3 separate regions of the Homo sapiens genome follow, and regions 2 and 3 are each linked to region 1. Evidence: fine-mapped expression QTL. A gene starts in region 1. Each other region holds a variant in brackets. All regions are shown on one strand. Distances are between the middles of the regions.

Region 1 (5,228 bases):
CTAATTTTATATTTTTTTAGTAGAGATGGGGTTTCATTATGTTGGTCAGGCTGGTCTCGAATTCCTGACCTCAGGTGATCAACATGCCTCGGCCTCCCAAAGTGCTGGGATTACAGATGTGAGCCACCGCGCCTGGCCAGAATAATATTTAATACTAAACAGAGAAGGAAATCTGTCAGGAGTGAAAGAGCCTCCTTGTTGCTAGAATAGATATTATTTGACTCTATATCTGTTACGTTCGCAAAGAAGTTACCAGGACATGAATATATACAGTAGTGAAATGAAAACTTACAAAATTAATATCCACATCTATCTGTCTATCCCTGACCAATACAGCAACCTGCTGATAGATCTCTACACAATGCAAGTCTGATGCAAGGTGAAACCGCAAATCTTGCAAATGCTGCAGGATTTCACGAGGTTCATGAAAGTGAGGTTGAAGAACAACTAGAAGAGCATGCAAGCCACTGAGAAATGAAGATGTGGCAGTTAGACTGGAGGAGAGTGACAGAAATGAAGGCATGAGAGCACTTCAGAAGACACTGAGTGCAACAGTAAAACGCTTGGAGACGGCTCTGGGATAACGGATGAAGTCTTTTTTTTTTTTTTTTAAAGGGGGAACAGAATAGCCTTTTTTGATCAAAATGCGTAAGTGAACCTCTGTGACGCAAAACCATATTGTTCTCTTATATTGTTTTGTTGCAAACATTATGCCAAAGATGACGATAAATGCTTAGGTGAATAATGTCTGGTTTCCATTGTAAGATAATATTTCAATCAAAGCTTTTATTTTTCTATTTCATGTGAAATTCTGATCCCCTTTTAAGTGGATTCACTTAAAGTGAAAAGACCCCCTTATAGGGTCTTTTATTAGTACCATTTATCTTTCTCTGAAGAGCACGTCTTTCTGCAATACATCCCTGCCCACATGCCTTTCCCATTCCCTTTTTTCTAAGTACAAAAATTTGGAAAATCCTCTCTCACCTGCTGTCTTAGTCTTCCAGTCTCTTTCTCCAAATGCACTACCAGGGCCACCGCTTCCTCTCCACTTTGCGGACACTGCTTCTGTGCCCAAGCCTGAATCTTCTCGGGTAAAATGGTGAGAAACTGCTCAATCACCAGCAGCTCAAGTATTTGCTCCTTGGAACGCATTTCTGGCTTCAGCCACCGGCAGCAAAGTTCCCAGAGTTTACTGAAAGCTTCATGGGGTCCAGTCACATCCTCATAACAGAATTGCCTGAAGCATTTGCGGAAGGTCTCAGAGCTATCCGATCCTTCCAGAATGGGCTCTGATGCCCACTCAGGGTCCTTTTCCACCTTCATTATTAGGCATCCCTCAACCTCCAGGGGCGCGTCGATCTGAGAGTCGAGGGCGACAGCCATGCTGCAGCCCAGGGGTCAACTTCACGTCTAGCTCAAGGTGGGGACCCAAAGAAGACTCCAAGCGCTCCCTGCTTAATGTTCCTGGGAGTGTGATAAGGTACGGAGGTAAAAACGGCCAGGTCGGCAGGAACAGGGTATTCCAGGCTGATTAATCAAATCTATGCCAGGCCCTTGAAAAGGTGAACGTATACTCTAAGATGCAAAAGCCTGGCCTCTTCTCCAAACAAGATGTGACCGCGCAATGTGGTTTTCCAGAGTGCATCCCTCTTAGTGCAAAGTCGGAAACCGGGAGGCTGGACGACTGGGAGAAAAATGAAGCAGGCTGAGGAAAGGCTGGGCGGAGGCGGACAGCCGGGCCGGGAGGGGGTGTGTCCGCTACTCCCGGGTCGGGCGCGGAGAGGCGAGTCCCCGAGTGGGTGGGGCCGGATGTGCAGGCCCCGCCCGGCGCCAGGTTCCGGGCTCGGGTCACCGCAGCACGTCCAGGCCGCCGCGGGTGCCGCTGGGGCCGCCGGATTCCGAGAGCGGCGCCGGGCTCTTTCGGGCCCACGACGGCCCCGACCGTCCTGAGGAAACCGCTGCCGCCGAGGAAAGGCCGCAAAAACTGTTCCGCCCGGAAGGGAGAAGAGCTGCGGGGCGAAGCCAGGGCTCGCAGGGGGCAGCGGCAGGCTGCTCGCGTTCGGCCTCGTCCACTCGGCCCGCGGAGAGCGCGGGGGGCGCTGGGAACCGCAGTCACGCATGCGCCGCCTGCCACCGAGCGCCGCGGGGCCCGCGCGAGGCGTCCTGGCGGGCGAGGGGCTGGGGGAGGGGGGGGGGGCCGTGCGGTGGACTCTCGCGAGAGCGCGCGGCGCGGTGACTCGTCGCTGAGGGACTTTAAGATTGTAGAGGGGCGCGGAGGGTCCTCCCCGGGGCGGAGGGACACAGAGGGATTCTAGGGAACCTGCCGTCGCGAGTCCCGCTTCAGGCGGAGAATCTAGGCGGCGGCGGGGCCTCCCTGAGGCGGAGGAGTCGGCACCGGGGCCTGGCTGCCGGGGAAGGAGAGCACGGGAGCGGGGACTCCTGTGTCTGGCGGAGGGACACGGCGTTCCGGTGGAGGGATCTGTTCCTTGTACCTGGTCCAGGGTTGCGGTCGGGGATGGAGCGGTTACCCCGACCCTGCGGGACCTTCTTCCTCTGGCGGAGGTGCACGGCGCGGCGTGGTGTTTTTCTGGCGGAAGTATCTGTGCGTGGCCCCAGGCCCTTCCCGGCGCGGTCTCATCTGGGGCCACTTGTTGGCCCTCGCGTTGGGGAGGTTCATGTGGTGCATCCTGATGAGAAGGGGGGTCACAGGGGTCTCGGGGCCAGGGTTCAGCCAGCCAGGCCCCAGCTTGCTCTCTTCTGGTGCTGCCCCTGTCCCTGAATTCATAGACCCGGCTTTCCCTCTCTTGAGCACCTACTATGTGCCAGGCTGCGCTTTGCGCATGTAGCAGAGGCAACAGTGTCACCTGGGAAGCTGGTTTCCCCCAAAGGAACTCTTGTCTGTCCGTTGTTGCAGAGCCAGCGCATGAGACCAAGTGTGAGTATCAGGCAGTGCAGCCTTCATTCAGTGGCCATGGAATTGGAGAAGTGGGAGGGTAGCTCGCAAATCAAGCTCTCAGCTCTTGGAAACTGAGAAGTTACAGGTAATAGGGAGTGTTGACGAAAAGTAAAACCGTGCAAAATATTTGAAGAGATTTATTGTGAGCCAAATACGAGTAACCACAGCCTGTGATACAGCCCTCTCGAGGCCCTGAGAACATGTGCCCAAGGTGGTCGGGGTGCAGCTTGGTTTTATGTTTTAGGTTGGCATGAGACATCAGTCAAATACATTAAATACATTGGTTTGGTCCAGGAAGGCGGGACAACGCAAAGGGGTGGGGGTGGGGGCTTCCAGGCTATAGGTAAATTTAAATATTTTCTAGTTGACAATTGGTTGAGTTTGTCTGAAGACCTGGGATTGATAGAAAGGAAGTGTTCAGGTTAAGATAAAAGATAGTGGAGACTAAGGTTCTTTTGAAGTCTTATGGTGGCTGCTCTTAGAGATAATAGATGACAAATGTTTCCTATTCAGATCTTCAAAAGGTGTTAGACTTTTAGTTAATCCGTTTAGGATTGGGAGGGCCTGGAAGAAAAACATCTAGCTATGTTAATAGATGTTCTTTACAGATGCACATTTTACCCCACAAAGGATAGCTTTTGGGGGAAAATGCTGTCCTTTATGGAAGAAATTGCAAAATAGGGCAAGGAAACATGTTTTGGGGTAAAATATTTTGACTTTCTTTTTGTCACGTAATGTTATGCCAGAGTCAGAATGGAAAGTAAGTCATCATATATAGGATTAAATAAAACCCATCTGATGAGAATTTATGGTTTGTAGGTCATGACTCCCCAGATCCCTTAGATAGGAATTTGGGCAGGATTAAAAAAATCAAGAGTTTAGGCTGGTCGTGGTGGCTCACGCCTATAATCCCAGCATTTTGGGAGGCCAAGGCAGGTGGATCGCTTGAGGTCAGAAGTTTAAGACCAGCCTGGCCAACATGGCGAAACCCCGTCTCTACTAAAAATACAAAAATTAGCTGGGCATGGTGGCACACGCCTGTGATTCTAGCTGATTGGGAGGCTGAGGCATGAGACTCAACTTGAACCCGGGAGGCGGAGGTTGCAATGAGCTGAGATTGTGCCACTGCACTCCAGCTTGGTTGACAAAGTGAGACTCTGTGTCAAAAACAAAACAAAACAGAAAAAAAAAACAAAAGAATCAGAGCTTAGTCGTCAGGTGTCCTTAATGAAGGGGCTGGGCATTAAGAGCAAGGCGAGGAGGCAGAAGGAAAGCTTGAGCCCAGGAATTGGAGACCAGCTTGGGCAACATGGTAAGACCCTGTCTCTAAAAAAAATAAAAATTAAGAACAAGAGGAGGAATATTCATGTTTTTTCTTGGGAAGGGAGGTAGATTTTCCTGGAATCAAGGAGCTGCCCCTTTTTTTGTCCTTTTTTTGGTCTCTTCGGGTCATCACGGTGATTGTCAACTGTCATGGCAACCAGTGGGAATGTCATTTAGTACTGAAGTTGGATTAGAATGAAGCTAGAGGTTCTTCAGAGGTCGAGTAAGCTAAGAAGGAACCTATGACCACAGACAACCTGTTTTCTAAAAATAAGCAGAGTTAAATCTGAGTAGGAATTTAGCTATGTCATGGAGGCATTGCATTGGGTAACAAAAGCCAGGTAGGCGTCCAGCTAAGTCCCCTAGGCCCTGCAACGGGTAACAGCAGTACTGACTCTATGTTAGAGAAAAGCTTGCTTGCTTGAGTATAATTATTGTTTTGCCTGAGTTTGTAAACTATTCACTAAAAACAGCCACAGAAAAAAACAGGACCTTCTTCAACAGATAAAACACACAGACCCGCAGCTTTGGGAACAGGCTGATGGCCCCTGCACAGTCTAGTCACAAGGCATTGACCAAGAAAGTAATGACTAACTGCCCATCTGAGACTGCGCATGATTCACAAGAATGTTTCTTTGTTTTGTTTTTTGAGACAGTCTTGGTCTGTCTCCCAGGCTGGAGTGCAGTGATGTTGGTTCGCTGTAGCCTCTGCCTCCTGAGTAGCTGGGACTACAGGCGTGTGCCACCGCACCTGGCTAATTTTTGTATTTTTAGTAGAGATGATGTTTGACTATGTTGGCCAGGATGGTCTCGAACTCCTGACCTCAAGTGATCCACCTGCCTCGGCCTCCCAAATTGCTGGGGTTACAAGTATGAGCCACCGCTCCTGGCCCACAAGAATGTTTTGATCATTATTTCTCCTAATTTTCCTTAAAATCCCTGGATCTAG
Region 2 (5,228 bases), 28 kb after region 1:
TATGGAACCAAAAAAAAAAAAAAAAAAGCCCCAATAGCCAAAGCAATCCTCAGCAAAACAGAACAAAGCTGGAGGCATCATAGTACCTGACCTAAAACTATACTCTAAGGCTACGGTAACAAAAACAGCATGGAAGTGGTATGAAAATAGAAACATGGACCAATGGAACAGAATATAGAACCCAGAAATAAAGCCACACGTTTACAACCAACTGATCGTTGACAAAAATAAGCAATCGAGAAAGGACCCTTTATTCAATAAATGGTGTTGGGATAACTGGCTAGCCATATGCAGAAGAATAAAACTGGACCTCTATCACCACATACAAAAATTAACTCAAGATGGGTTAAAGACTTACATGTAAGACCTAAAACTAAAAATTCTAGAAGAAAATCTAGGAAACACCATTTTCGATGTTGGTCTTGGGAAATAATTTATGACTAAGTCCTCAAAAAATTTGCAACAAAAACAAAAATTGACAAATGGGACCTAATTAAATGAAAGAGCTTCTGCACAGGAAAAGAAACTATCAACAGAGTAAACAGACAACCTGGAGAACAGCAGAAAATATTAACAAACTATGCATCCAAAAGAAGTGTAATATGAAACTTAAACAATTCAACCAGCAAAAAAACAAATGACCCTATTAAAAAGTGGGCAAAAGACATGAACAGACACTTCTCAAAAGAGGTGGGTAGATCACCTGAAGTCAGGAGTTTGAGACCAGCCTGGCCAACGTTGTGAAACCCCGTCTCCACTAAAAATACAAAAAATTAGCCAGGTATGGTGGCAGGCGCCTGTAATCCTAGCTACTCAGGAGGCTGAGGCAGGAGAATCGCTTGAATCTGGGAGTCGGAGGTTGCAGTGAGCCAAGATCACACCATTGCACTCCAGCCTGGGCAACAAGAGTGAAACTCTATCTAAAACAAAACAAAACAGACATACAAGCAGCCAACAGACGTAAAAAAATGCTCAACATTGCCAATCATCAGAGAAATACAAATCAAGACCACAGTGAGACCAATTAATAGCTCACACCCGTCAGAATGGCTTTTGTTAAAAGTGAAAAGATAATAGATGTTGGTGAGGCTGTGGAGAAAAGGGAATGCTTGTACACTTTTGGTGGAAATGTAAGTTAGTTTAGCCACCATGGAAAGCAGTTTGGAGATTTCTCAAAGAACTTAAAACAGAACTACCATTCGACCCAGCAATCTCATTACTGGGTATATACCCAAAGGAAAATAAATTGTTCTATCAAAAAGACACATGCACGCATGGGTTCATCACAGCACTATTCACAACAGCAAAGTCATGGAATCAGTGTAGGTGCCCATCAGTGGTGGACTGAATGAAGAAGATGTATACACCATGGAATACTGTGCAGCCATACAAACAAACAAAATCACATCCTTTGCAGCAACATGGGTACAGCTGGAGGCCATTATCCTAAGCAAATTAATGCAAGAACAGAAGACCAAAGACTACATATTCTCACTTACAAGTGGGAGATAAATATGCTCATAGATGTAAAGATGGCTACTACAAATAAAGTTGCTACGAACAATCACAGATCAGTTTTTGTGTGGGCATAGGTTTTCATTTCTTTGGGGTAAATGCCCAGGGGTGGGTACAATTGCTGGGTCATATAGTAAGTGTATTTTTTTTTTTTTTTTAAAGAAAGTGGCAATCTATTTTTCCATGGTGGCTATACCATTTTTACACTCCAGAAATATACAAAAAATCTAGTTTCTCCACATCCTTGCTGGCATTTGATACTGTCACTGTTTTTTATTTCAAATGTTCTAATAGATGAGTATTGATAGCTCATTGTGGTCTTGATTTGCATTTTCCTAATGGCAAATTATGTTGAACATTTTTCCTGTGCTTGTTTGCCATTTGTATATCCTCTTTGGTGAAATGCGCCTTTTGCCCATTTTCTTTTTTTTTTTTTCTTTTGAGAAGGAGTCTCGGTCTATCACCAGGCTGGAGTGCAGCAGTGCAATCTCGGCTCACTGCACCCTCCACCTCCCGGGCTCAAGCGATTCTCCTGCCTCAGCCTCCTGAGTACCTGGGACTATAGGCACGCACCACCACGCCCGGCTAATTTTTGTGTTTTTAGTAGATACGGGGTTTCACCATGTTGGCCAGGATGGTCTCAATCTCTTGACCTTGTGATCTGCCTGTCTCAGCCTCCCAAAGTGCTGGGATTACAGGCGTGAGCCACTGCACCCGGCTGCCCATTTTCTAATTGAATTATTATTATTTGTTTAATGTTCAGTTTTGAGAGTTCTTTATTCCAAAGTGGCCTTTTGTTAGATATGTGATTTGCAAATAATTTCTTCCAGTTTATAGCTTATCTTTTTATCCTTTTAATGAAGTCTTTTACAGAGTAAAAGTTTTTCATTTTGAAGTCCAATTTATCAATTTATTCTTTTATGAATTACACTTCTGGTGTCATGTTTAAGAGTTCTTCATGTGCTCCAAAGATTTCCCCTTTTGTTATCTTCTAAAATATTTATAGTTTTACATTTTATGTTGAAGTCTATGATCCATTTTCAGTTAGTTTTTATATAAGGTGTGAGATGTAGGTCAGAGTACTTAAAAATTTTTTTTTGCTTCAGCACCATTTGGAGAAAATATTACACTTCTTATATTGAGTTGCTTTTGCATCTTGTAAAACATCAGTTGGTTGATGCAAAAGCAGAGGGGTGTTAAAAAATCAGTTGGTTGCACTCATGTGGCACTATTTCTAGGTTTTTTATTCATTTCCATTGATCTCTGTGTCTCTCCCTCTGCCATTATCACATAGTCTTTATTACTGTAGCTACCTCTATTA[ATATT/A]TATTTATTTATTTATTCATATATATATTTTGAGACAGGGTTTTATTTATGTCACTCAGGCTGGAGTGCAATGGTGCAATCTCGGCTCACTGCAACCTCTGCCTCCCAGGCTCAAGTGATCCTCTTGCCTCAGCCTCCCAAGTAGCTGGGACTACAGGTGCACGCCACTGCACATGGCTAATTTTTCTTCTTTTATTTTTAGATACAAGATTTTAGAGACGGGATTTCACCATGTTGCCAAGCCTGTCTTGAACTCCTGGCCTCAAGCAATCCAGCCTCCTCAGCCTCCAAAGTGCTGGGGTTACAGGTGTGAGTCCCTATGCCTGGCCTTACTGTAGTTACATCTAATAAGTCCTGATATGAGGTAGAGTGATTCCTCTACGTTTATCAATGTCTTTTGAAAATTGTTTTGGTTATTCTAGCGCCTGGCCTTTCCATATAAATTTCAGAATAATTTTGTCTGTATCTGTAGAAAATTTTGCTGAAATTTTGACAGGAATTCTGTTACATTTGCATCTCAATTTGGGGGGAATCGGCATCTTTACTGAGTCTTCTACTCATGAACATGTTATGTTTCTCTGTATATTTAGATCTTTGATTTAATAGTTTTTGGCCTGTAATTCATATACATATTTAGTTAGATTTACACATAATTGTTTCATCTTTTGAGCAATTATAAAAGGCATTATATTTTTAATTTCAGTTTTCATGTGTTCATTGTTAATACATAAATACACAAATAATTTTGTATCTTTCTCTTGTATCCTGTAAACCTGCTGAACTTATTTATTTATTTATTTTTGAGATGGAGTTTTGCTCTTCTTGCACAGGCTGGAGTGCAATGGTGCAGTCTCGGCTCACTGCAACCTCCACCTCCCGGGTTCAAGTGATTCTCCTGTCTCAGCCTCCCAAGTAGCTGGGATTACAGGTGCCCACCACCACACCTGGCTAATTTTTGTATTTTTAGTAGAGACAGGGTTTCCCCATGTTGGCTAGGTTGGTCTCGAACTCCTGACCTCAGGTGGTCCGCCCACCTCGGCCTCCCAAAGTGCTGGGATTACAGGTGTGAGCCACTGTGCCCAGCCAGTTCCAGTTGTTTTTCTATAGATTCCTTGGAATTTTCTGTGTAGACTGCTATGCCATTGGCAAATATGGACCATTTTTTTCCTTCCCTTCTTATTAGTGTGCTTTTTATTCTCTCTCTCTTTTTTTTAACCTTATTTCACTGGCTAGAACTTCCAGCACTATGTTGAATAGCAGTGGTGAGGGTGGATGGCCTCCTTTTCTTCCCAATTAGCTCATTCTTGTAAACACAGTTGTGTATGATGCAATGGAGAGACTAAGCATGGGTGTCAAAATCAATCTAACCCATGGTCAAACCAGATCTCACAACATACTATCTATGTGATCTTAGAAAAGTGGCTTTCTCTCTGTATGTTTCCTCACCTTCAAGGATTAGATAATACTATCTATGCCCGGGCTGGGCGTGGTGGCTCATGCCTGTAATCCCAGCACTTTGGAAGGCCAAGGCAGGTGGATCACCTGAGTTCAGGAATTCGAGACCAGCCTGACCAACATGGTGAAATCCCGTCTCCACTAAAAATACAAAAAATTAGCCAGGCGTGGTGGCGGGCGCCTGTCATCCCAGCTACTCAGGAGGCTGAGGCAAGAGAATCTCTTGAATCTGGGAGTTGGAGGTTGAAGTGAGCCGAGGTTGCGCCATTGCACTCCAGCCTGGGCGACACAGCAAAACTCTGTCTCAAACAACAACAACAACAACAACAACAAACCAACAATAATATCTATGCCTTGGCTTTGCTAGACAACACAACAGCGTGTAGAGGTTAGGAACACAGACTTTGGAGCCAGGTTACCCAGGCTCAGGTCCCAGCACCGCGACTCTCAATCTCATGACCTTGGGCAAGTTACTTGTTCCCTCTGTGCTTCAGTTTCCTCATTGGTTCAGTGGGCAAAATAAGACTAACATAAAGTTATTGCAAAGATGGAATGAGATAATAAATGTTAAGCTTTTAGAACAGTACTTGGCACATAGTAAGCACTAGGGAAGTGTTTTTGTTGTTGTGGTTGTGAGATTTAAATGAATGTGTAGAAAATACCTAGCATGGTGCAAATGCTCAGTAAAATTTTTTTCTGACACTAAATTCTATGCTAACTAAAAAAAAAAAAAAAAAAAAAAAAATTAAGCGGCACCAAAAACCTTGTAATAAAAGCAACAATGTCTTGTTTCCCCTCCTTTCCTGCTCTCTGGAGGTAAAAATTTTTTTTTTTTTTCTGAGACGGAGTCTCGCTCTGTTGCCCACCTGGAGTGCAGTGGCGCCATCTCGGGTCACTGCAACCTCCGCCTTCCAGGTTCAAGCGATTCTCCTG
Region 3 (5,228 bases), 83 kb after region 1:
TTATTACTATAACCCAGCATCTAGCGCAGTGCCTGGCACATGATAAATGCTCACTAAATATATAACAGGAAACTGTGGGTAAAGCAGTTCTCAGCAAACTCCTCCATTCCCAGATCAATCCTGGGACATATGCAATGCCTATTATGAGGACTTAGCGTTGCTTGAGCCACTGGGGCTCGCGTTCCCAGGAATGCCTACCAGTGTCTCAGTGTCCTCTATGTTCATGTGCTTCCTATTTTCTTTTGCTATTTTTCTATCACAAGGGTTTCAGTATCCAAAAACATCAAGTCTTGTTTTTCGCTAGCTTTAGTTTGCAAGATTGGAATTTTATCTTGGTCCTTTTTCCTGAATTTCTACTTGAGCCCTTTATGGTTCGTTTCCAAGTCTGGAGTCTTGATTCTGAATCCTAGCCCCCAAGGAAGGGTTTCCTAATCTTGGATCAATCTTCCCGGTGTTAATTGCCTTGTTGCCTGAGTTCTAAGAGGTGTCCAGTGTGGAGGCCCAGACTTGGACGTCTTATCATCTCTTGGATCCATGATTAATTAATTCCCTCAACAAATCTGTATTGTATACTATGTGCTGGGCATTGTGTTAAGGTGGACAAAACAAAAATTATCATTGACTCTGCAGAGCTTTCAGTCTAGACTGGGTTGGGGGAGGAGTAAGAGAGAGACAGAGAAACAGAGAGAGGAACCAAGCAATCAAACAGACAAGTGAAATGATTTTAATAACAGTGCTGTAAAGACAGTAACTATGGGATTGAGATAAAGAACACCTGGGGGGCTGGGGGATGTGTGCCACCTTGGATTTGTGGCCAGGCCATGCTGAAGAGGTGACTGGAGTTGACACCCAAGGAATGAGAAGATGTTAGCCATGTGACGAGTGGAGAAAGTACATTTTGGAAAGAGGGAGCAAATTGCATGAAGACTCCAGGGTGGGAAAGAGCTCTGTGGGTCTGAAGAACTGAATTAAGGCCATCTGGGGAGAGAATGGTGATGGAAGGAAGATGAGGTTGTAAGTAGGGGCCAGGTGCTGCAAGGCATTTAGGCCTTGGTAAGGAGCGTGGATTTTCTCCTGTGTATTATGGTAAGGCACATATGTGTTTAAGCAGGGGAAACTCCTAATAAGATTTATGTTTTTTAAAATTTTTCAACTTTTATTTTAGAATCAGAACATACATGTGCAGGTTTGCTGCAAAGATATATTGCATGATGCTGAAGTTTGGGGTAAGAATGATCCCATTACCCAGGTGAACATAATACCCAATAGGTAGTTTTCAGCCTTTTGCCCCCCTCCCTCTCTTGCTCCTCTAGTAGTCCTGTATTAGTCTGTTCTCCAGCTGCATACCCAAGACTAGGTAATTTATAAAGTAAAGATGTTCAATGGACTCACAGTTCCACATGGCTGGGGAGGCCTCACAGTCATGGCAGAAGAGCAAGGGACATCTTACACAGTGGCGGGCAAGAGAGAACTTGTGCAGGGGAACTCCCCTTTATAAAACTATCAGATCGACTGGGCGCGGTGGCTCACACCTGTAATCCCAGCACTTTGGGAGGCCGAGGCAGGTGGATCACGGGGTCAGGAGATTGAGACCATCCTGGCTAACACGGTGAAACCCCGTCTTTACTAAAAACATAAAAAATTAGCTGGGCGTGGTGGCACGCAGCTGTAGCCCCAGCTACTCAGGAGAATCGCTTGAACCTGGGAGGCGGAGGTTGCAGTGAGCCAGGATTGCGCCACTGCAGTCCAGCCTGGGCAACAGAGCGAGACTCTGTCCCAAAACAAATAAACAAACAACAAAAAACCATCAGATCTCAGGAGACTTATTCACTGTCATGAGAACAATATGGGAAAGACCCGCCCCCATGATTCAATTACCTCCCACCGGGTACCCCGATGACATGTGAGAATTATGGGAGCTACAATTCAGGATGAGTTTTGGGTGTGGACACAGCCAAACCATATCAAGTCCCCAGTGTCTGTTGTTCCCATCTTTATGTCCACACTTACCCAATGTGGTACATATACACCATAGAATACTACACAGCCATAAAAAGAACAAAATCATGTCCTTTGCAGCAGCATGGACCCAGCTGGAGGCCATTATCCTAAGCAAACTAACGCAAAAACAGAAAACCAAATACCACATGCTCTCACTTATAAGTGAAAGCCAAACAGAGGATTTATGTTTTAAGAATATTCTTCCTCCTGCTTTGCAGAGAATAAGTGCCAGGGCAGGGCAATCTCTATGCAGCCCTCCACGGTTTATGCAAACCACAATGTGAATGGTACCCTCTGGGGTGTTTCCTGGAAGCAGCACTTCTAGAAAGGCAAGAGTGGAAGGAGAAGATGATTTCAGATGGCTCTCCATGTGGGCTGTGTATTATACCTCCCTGGGGAGTTGCTAAAGACACAGTCACTCAGGGGTGTCTCCACCCTCAGGCTATTGTAAATCAGAGCCTCTGGGAGTGGGGCCAGGCATCACTGTAACTAGTGTTGCGAACCATAGCTTTAGAAGGATGTTACATCAGCCCAGGCAAGAGATGATGGTCATTTGGACTAGGATAGTGGTAGTGAAGAGAGAAAGAGGTGGAGGAACTTTGAGGTACAATAGACAGGCTTGGCTAAATGTGGATAGGGGATGAACGTGAAGAATCAAGACTTACTCCCAGGTTTCTGGTTGGGGAATTACTAGAGCAATGGTTCTCACTCAAGCATGCTTCCGGATCACCTGTAAGCCTTGTTAAACCACCTTCCAATCTAAAAAGTGACAAAATAGATGGAAAGAAATGAAGTTTTGAAGTTTTGTTAAATTGGAAAGTTTTCAGCCATGATTTCTTTAAAAAAAAATGTTATTTGTTATTGTTGTTGTTGTCCTATCCTCTTTCTTCTGTCTTTCTGGTTCTCTTGTGA[C/T]AAAAATGTTAAATGTTTTGCTACAGTCCCACGGGTCCCCCGGAAGTGGAAGTCTGGGCTGTCTCACTCAGTCTGCTGGTGTGGTTGGACACAGGGCCACAATTTTTCTATGGTGTTTGGATGTAGTTAAGTGGTTATATTGTCCAGAGTTTTCTCTCTTGCTAGATTGCTCTTTTCCTGTTCTTTTTTGTTTTTGTTTTTTGGCAGAAAGATTGGGCTTTTATACAGGCTTTTTTGTTAGCTTCTTCAGCTTCAAGTCTGGGATACACAAAATGAAAAGAAACCAAGTGAGCAGATCCACGTGTTGTTCCTTGATCCCCAGCCAGTTTGCTTTCTCCTCATTTCAGAATCCTTTGCTTGTTTTATATGTAATGTCAAGGGTTTTTAGTTTTACTTAGTAGGAAGAATAGGGAAAATATATCTTTTTTATCTTCCCAGAGGCACAAGAACTGAAACCAGTTTCTAGAAAAAAAAAAAAATGTCTATTGGTTGGGCACAGTGGCTCAAGCCTGTAATCCCAACACTTTGAGAGGCCAAGGCGGGAGGAACACTTGAGCCCAGGAGTTCAAGACCAGCATGGGCAACATAGCAAGACCTCTTCTCTACAAAAAAAAAAAGAAAGAAAGAAAGAAAGAAAATTAGCCGCGCATGGTGGTGTGTGCCTGTGGTCTGAAGCTACTCGGGAGGCTGAGACAGGAAGTTCGCCTGAGCTCAGGAGTTTGAGGGTGTAGGGAGTCATGATTGTGCTACCGCACTCCAGCCTCGGTGACAAAGTGAAACCCTGTCTTGGAAAAAAAACAAACAACAAACAAACAAAAAACAATTTATAAGAGAAAAGTCTCTCTCTTATTGTATCTTCTTTTCCAAAAAAGTTATGAATGTTAAGAGCCTAGAGTATATCCTTTTATTCTTTCTCCATACACATTTACAAATATGCACATGCAAACACACACACACAGAATATTTGTCATTGTTTTTACCCAAACGAAATCATACTGTATATATTCTTGCAACTTCCTTTTCTCATTAATAATACATAATGGATACCCTTTTGGGCTAACAGTCATAGATCTAACTCATTCTTTATATTAGCTACTTAATATTCCATAATATGGAAGAGCCATGGTTACTTAACTTGTTTTTAGTTTTATTGCCTTCACAAATAATAATTTTATTTATATAGGATAGATTACCAAAAAAGGACAGATCAAGATAAACAGTACATGTACTATTTTTTTTTTTTTTTGAGATGGAGTCTTGCTCTGTCACCCAGGCTGGAGTGCAGTGACAGGATCTTGGCTCACTGCAACCTCCACCTCCGAGGTTCAAGAGATTCTTATGCCTCGGCCTCCCAAGTAGCTGGGACTATAGGTGTGCACTACCACACCTGGATAATTTTTGTATATTTTAGTAGAAATGGATTTTGCTATGTTGGCCAGGCTGGTCTCGAACTCCTGGCCTCAAGTAATCCATCTGCCTCAGCCTCCTAATATGCTGGGATTACAGGCTTGAGCCACCACGCCCGGCCAGTATATGTACTTTTAAGTTGAATAAACATGGCATGGTTATGGTTCCACAAAAGGCTCTGATGACTCACATTTCCCCAGTGACATGACAATATATGTTTCTTCTAGCATCTTGCCAGCTCTGGGAGTTTCCTCTCATTTTACTTTTTTTTTGTTTTTTTTTTGAGGTGGAGTCTCGCTCTGTCGCCCAGGCTGGAATGCAGTGGCACAATCTCGGCTCACTGCAAGCTCCGCCTCCAAGGTTCATGCCATTCTCCTGCCTCAGCCTCCCAAGTAGCTGGGACTACAGGCATCTGCCACCATGCCCGGCTAATTTTTTTTTTTTTGTATTTTTAGTAGAGACAGGGTTTCACTGTGTGAGCCAGGATGGTCTCGATCTCCTGACCTCATGATCCGCCTGCCTCAGCCTCCCAAAGTGCTGGGATTACAGGCATGAGCCACTGTGCCTGGCCTCATTTTAAATTTTTGCCTTTGTCGGGGTGAAATAGTATCTCATTTTTAATTAACATATATTTATTGGCCTGTTCCTGCCTTTTTCCATTTTCCTGTTGGGTGTTAGTATATTTCTCATCAGTTTGAGAGAACTCATTTAGCAGTTTTATTTGTTATATGCATTGCAAATACATTGTCTCTGTTTAACTCCAACCTATTACCAGAGCATCTGTGAACCTTTCCTCTAACACACTGAGCATGTTGCATTGTCCCTTGCTGACAATTGCTGTCTCTGCTAAAGGCTGTCTTCCTTAAGCTAAGGACCATTTTCTCAACTTCGTAGCTCTAGTCCCAAGC

What was found. PIP is the estimated chance that this variant, and not a neighbour inherited with it, causes the effect. A credible set is the group of variants that fine-mapping cannot tell apart.
Region 2: its variant is the best candidate, but not a certain one, in a credible set for the expression of ZKSCAN2 in esophagus muscle (GTEx, PIP 0.57).
Region 3: its variant is the best candidate, but not a certain one, in a credible set for the expression of ZKSCAN2 in whole blood (INTERVAL, PIP 0.85).

The regions. Positions count from the first base shown.
Region 1 is chr16:25,255,745-25,260,972 of GRCh38, forward strand. ZKSCAN2 (zinc finger with KRAB and SCAN domains 2) reads right to left here and starts at 2,101. Exons shown (of 7, transcript NM_001012981.5): 1 at 985-2,101. The coding sequence starts at 1,383. ZKSCAN2-DT (ZKSCAN2 divergent transcript) reads left to right here and starts at 1,833. Exons shown (of 1, transcript NR_170220.1): 1 at 1,833-5,228. RefSeq lists enhancers at 1,467-2,027, 2,443-2,762, 2,883-2,962 and silencers at 1,713-1,952, 2,033-2,232.
Region 2 is chr16:25,284,078-25,289,305 of GRCh38, forward strand. No RefSeq gene overlaps it. Among named protein-coding and RNA genes, the nearest start is that of ZKSCAN2, 29 kb to the left of the region's middle. The variant ATATT/A (reference allele first, on the strand shown) is at 2,837.
Region 3 is chr16:25,338,754-25,343,981 of GRCh38, forward strand. No RefSeq gene overlaps it. Among named protein-coding and RNA genes, the nearest start is that of ZKSCAN2, 84 kb to the left of the region's middle. The variant C/T (reference allele first, on the strand shown) is at 2,914.